Regions from separate parts of the Homo sapiens genome. Here region 2 is linked to region 1. A link means that fine-mapping ties the variant in region 1 to the expression of a gene that starts in the linked region. Tissue or cell type: unexposed skin. Region 1 holds a variant in brackets; the other region holds the start of a gene. All regions are shown on one strand. Distances are between the middles of the regions.

Region 1 (2,500 bases):
GGAGCGGGGGGCGGTATCCGTCACCTCCAAGCTTTGTCCGGCTGGGAAGGCCCGCGCCTCCCGCCCCAGGTGCAGGAGGTGGGGCGGGTGGAGGGGAGCGGGTCCCTCCGGGCGCGAAGGAGAGCTAGGCGCCGCCGCCCCCGGCCCGGCCCTCCCACCGCCCCCTTACTCTGTGATGCGCTTGGCCAGCTCCGTGCAGGCGGCCGTGGAGTTGGCCGAGAAGACTCGGTAGCCGGTGCGAGCGGCGTTCATGGCCGGCGGGGGAACGGGGCGGGCGCGCGGGACGCGGAAAGCCGAGGACGCGGAGGGCGGGGGCAACAGCAGCAGCTTCTTGGGCATCGTCCGGCCCGCGGCGCGGTTACGACCGGCCCCGCGCGGGGCTGCACTCTGAGTGCTTCCGACTGCGAGACCCCGGTTTGGGTGGGGAAGGCGCTGAGAAACTCGGCGCAAGCGGGGAGAGCTCCGAGGTCCGTGCCCTTGCGCACCCCACACCACTGACTACAGCGGCCGAGCCTTCGCAGCGCCCGGCGCCGCCGCCTCAGAGCCAGAGGCAAGGCCACCGCCCCCTCCGGGCATCCGAAGAGCGTCGGCTAGAGCGCCCTCAGGCCGCCATCTCGGATGAGGGCAGGGAGCCTGGCGACTCTCTAAAAGCCTGTTCTTCCGAGGGGCATGTCACAGGTTCGCCCCGCCCCTGCTTTGACCGCTTCCACGGGAGCTCTTTCGGTCTCACTTTCTTGGGAGGAGCAGCCTACCTCGGTAGTGGCCCCAGGTGTTTCCAACTTTTTGGCCAGGACCCAACATGTCCGCCTCCGAGGAGGTATACGATCTAGCTCTGCATGTCTATGGTAGCACAGCGCCCGCCCCACGAGGCGCGTGCGCCGGCCGGAGATTAATTTGAAAAGTAGAGGGCGGGGGTTCTTTCCAGCTGGTTGACCGCAGTACTGAAGCGGCCAAAAAGTGGTCTTCTCCTGAGCCTGATCTTTCAGGCGTTTCCGAACAGATCCCCAACCCTGTGTCTGCGTGTAAGGCAAGGTTCCCTGAACGTGCCAAAGGCCCTCTTGCCGGTATTCGCTTTCAATCAAAAAAGCCCTCCTTC[T/C]CCTCTTTCCATATGCGCCACCCCTCCGAGACCCACTCGCGATGCGTCTGTTCCACAGTCTTTCTGGTGACCTCAACCACAGTAAGCCGCCCGGCCCGCGGGACTGTGCCACACGTAGATGCTTGCATTTTTTAAATTTTTGTTGTTGTTGTTATTGTTTTGATGCTTGCATATTTATGTACCTTTGCAAACATCTATTTTCCTAACTAGGATGTAACCCATTTTACGGCCACATCGTGAGTTCCTTTTTTTTTTTTTTAATTTTATTATTATTTATTTATTTTTTGAAATAGGGTCTCCCTCTGCCGCCCAGGCTGGAGTGCAGTGGCGCGATCACGGCTCACTGCAGCCTCTACCTCCCGGGCTCAAGCCATCCTCCTACCTCAGTCATTCAAAATGCCGACATTACAGGCCTCAGCCATCACGCCCCGCCAAGATCGTGTATTCCTGAGTGCTCCGTGTTACCCAGTGTATAGGGCAGTGTGTGGGCTCCAGAGGCCCGCAATCAGTACTTGTTGAAGTAGAAAGTAAAGCCCAGGGAAGCATTTGAGATCTCTAGTTATCAGCTGCACCAGAACTCGAGGGGAGGAGAGGTGCCTCTCACATTGACAGTACCATCTTCTGAGAATGTCCTTTAGAGACTCTGCTTGTGGTGACATTGGGCTTGAGGGAGCAGTAGATTGTGACTCAGCATGTCGTGAAGGACCACAAGTCTGAAGCTACAGGATTTGGAAGTTGAGCTGCCCTGAGCCTGCAGCAGCCTGGCCCCTATTCCAATAGCTCTCTAGAAAAAAAAAAAAAAAAAAAAAGGACAGTGGGTGCACAGCCTAGGCCAAATTATTTAACCACTGCACACATGTCCAGCTCACAGACCCTGACAAAAACCTTGTTACCTTCTTAAAAAAAAGGGGGAATGGGATAGGTGCAGTAGCTCATGCCTGTAATCCCAGCACTTTGGGAGGCCGAGGCGGATGATAGTTTGAGGTCAGGAGTTCAAGACCAGCCTGGGCAACATGGCGAAACCCAATCTGTACTAAAAATACAAAAATTAGCCAGGTGTTGGCTGAGCGTGGTGGCTCACTCCTTTAATCCCAGCACTTTGGGAGGCTGAGGTGGGTGGATCACCTGAGGTCAGGAGTTTGAGACAAGCCTGGCCAAGGTGGCAAAACACTGTCTCTACTAAAAATGCAAAAATTAGGCTGGGCACGGTGGCTCATGCCTGTAATCCCAGCACTTTGGGAGGCTATGGTGGGTGGATCACGAGGTCAGGAATTCGATACCAGCCTGGCCAACATGGTGAAACCCTGTCTCTACTAATAATACAAAAAATTAGCCAGATGTGGCCGGGCGCGGTGGCTCACGCCTGTAATCCCAGCACTTTGAGAGGCTGAGGCGGGCGGATCA
Region 2 (2,500 bases), 720 kb before region 1:
GAAGATGGCTGAGGTGATGTCTGAAGTGCATTACAGTACAGTCATGCCCCATGGAATGACTGCACAGCCAATGGTGGTCCCCTACGATTCTAACACTGTATTTCTACTGTACTTTTTCTATGCTTATGTGTGCTTAGATATGTGAATACCACTGTGTTACAACTGCATACGGTACTCAGGACAGTAACGTGATGTACAGGTTTGTGGTCTAGGAGCAACAAGCTGTAGCGCATGGCCTGGGTGTGTAGGAGGCTGTGCCGCTTGATATTTTTTTCCTTCTCTTCCCTGGAATTGCTGTTTGATTTCCCTAAGTATACTCTGTGACCGCACAATGACAAGTTAAATTTCTCAAAACGTATTTGCATTGCTAAGGCAGGCACGGCTGTGTAGTAATATGTCCCATCATCAACCCGTGAGGGTGTCACAGGTGGGGCCTTTAGCCAGGGAGACGCAGCCTCGCCTGGAGTCCTCCTCTCGTCTTCCTCTGTCTCAACCCTGCTGCAGCCCTCCTGGGGTGAGCGGCCTCTGCCCATGCTGGGAGCAGGGAGCAGCCTCTGGCTGGCCCACGAGGCTCTGTCGCATCTCTGTTCCCTCTGCATGGGGGTGGCTGTCGACCCTTGGGGCAGCTGCAGAGGCCGCAAGAGGGGCCATAGCTCTCTCAGGCTCCTTATAAACAGCCATTCCTGCCACCAGGAACGTGGCACAGGGTAGGGAAGCCCAAGAGGAGATGCTGGAACACAGGCAGGGCTGTCTGGGGTGCCACATCCCAGGGACAAGAATAGCTGGCATTAACTGCTCTAACTAGAACTCCTCCCAGTGTGAGCACTGCTGCGGCTGCAAGAAGCCCTTTGAGGGGCTGCGACCCCAAGGCGCAGGCTCAAGGATGCAAGGCTGATTGCAACACCCCGGTAAGGAAGCAGGGCCTGGCTGACTTTCTTTTAGCTGAGTGAATGCAGCTCTGAAGCCTGACCTGGGCTGGGACAGCCGAGGCGGCCACCAGAGGGCGCTCCTGCCCCCACTCTGCTCCAATGAGTAAATGCAACAAATGGTTCATCCCCAGGAGTCCGTGCGCCCGCACAGCGGCCGCCTGTCCAGCCTCTGGGAGGCTCTGGCATCCGAGTGGTGTGACCACATGGCTGGCTTCCTCCCCCTGCCCTCCTCAGGCCCTGACTCACTGGGGTTTTGTGCTCGGACTCAAAGAGCTCCATTGACAGCGGGGCTGGGGTCGGTTTCTCTCCACACAGCCTAGCCTGCTGGGAGGCACAACCAGGCAAATGTCACAGGGCCCGGCCCCTGGACTCTGGAGCCCTGCCCTGACAGCTGGGCCAGGAGTGCGGTCACAGCCCCAGCAGAAGGCCCTCACCTCACAAGGAACATGAGGCGCCTTGCCGGGCGCGCAGGCCACTCCCAGGTCACTCAGGATTCCAAGTTCTCCCCCAAGACGCCTTCAGATGCTGAGCGGCACAAGGGCCTCCCCAGGGACTGGTTGCAAAGCCTCCTGCTCAGCTTGAGAGGGCCACCAGCTCCCCACTGTTTACTGTTGTTCCTGAGAGAGGCCAGAGGGAGGGACCAGCCAGGGAGTGGCCAGAGGGACAGAAGGGGTGGCCTTCCTGAGGGCAGGGTGGGTGCCCCAGACCTGAGAGCGCTGCAGGACTCCCCTCCACAGGCTCAGGTGGAGCCTCCCCAGGGTCCTCCTGGCCAGGAAGGCAGAGAGCCGACTTCTTTCTTCAGCTCCCAACCCAGGCCCAGCCCACGGCGTGGGAGTCGGGGAGAGGGAGAGGAGGAGGAAGGAGGAGGAGAGAGGGAGCTTGTCTTGTCCCTGAGCAGCGCTCTCAGGGCAGAGGTGAGGCACCGGGACATGAAGTTGGAGGACAAGTTCCCAAGCAGGGCTTCCTCGGGCTCCCCCTCGCGACGGTAATTTGACACTTGGATCTCCAGGACGACCAACAACAAAAAAGCCAGGCAGAGACAGCAGCTGGCTGTCAGCAGAGGAGCTGGGCTGAGGCGCCCAGGGGAGCAGCGGCGCCCACGAAGGAAGTACGAGGACAGCACGTGGAGGCTCCGCGCTGGGGCACTGCTGCTCAGCCCCCAACACCTGAGCTCCCAGGTGAGTGGCAATGGCCACAGAAGAAGGGGGGACAGGGAGGGAGCAGCAAGGGTCCCCTGCCCCCAGGGTGAAGGGCCACAGTCTACCATAAACACGGAGAGGTCTTCGGGGACATGCTGGGTCGCTTCCCTGCAGGGAAGTCAGCCAGCCTCCTGCACACACCTGCACTCTCCCTGCTGCTGGGACCCTGCACTAGGGGAGGGCTGGGGGCTCTGCTCAGAGCGCCTCCTGCTCCGCCTGCTGTGCAGCAGAGGGGCCCCGAGGGCCTGCTTATTCTGCAAGTTCATTTCAGCTCTTTTATTCAGGGGGCTTAAAAGAGGGATTTGGCTGTCCAGCTTGGGAGAGAATGGCTGCCGGCCTGCTGAGCCTCCCTTTTTCCCAGGATTAGGGCAG

Direction of the effects. Alleles are on the strand shown, and positions count from the first base shown. SD is a standard deviation of normalised expression in the study named.
For the expression in unexposed skin of the gene that starts at base 1,339 in region 2, allele T in region 1 goes with a lower level than allele C (moderate effect, 0.58 SD a copy in GTEx).

What was found. PIP is the estimated chance that this variant, and not a neighbour inherited with it, causes the effect.
Region 2: SMIM5 starts here. The variant in region 1 is fine-mapped to the expression of SMIM5 in unexposed skin (GTEx, PIP 0.94).

The regions. Positions count from the first base shown.
Region 1 is chr17:76,353,365-76,355,864 of GRCh38, forward strand. PRPSAP1 (phosphoribosyl pyrophosphate synthetase associated protein 1) reads right to left here and starts at 552. Exons shown (of 10, transcript NM_002766.3): 1 at 170-552. The coding sequence starts at 339. RefSeq lists a silencer at 29-348 and enhancers at 518-1,382, 629-898. The variant T/C (reference allele first, on the strand shown) is at 1,097.
Region 2 is chr17:75,632,096-75,634,595 of GRCh38, forward strand. SMIM5 (small integral membrane protein 5) reads left to right here and starts at 1,339. Exons shown (of 3, transcript NM_001162995.3): 1 at 1,339-2,107. The region is part of intron 8 of RECQL5 (RecQ like helicase 5); the gene reads right to left. RefSeq lists enhancers at 411-1,091, 1,092-1,771.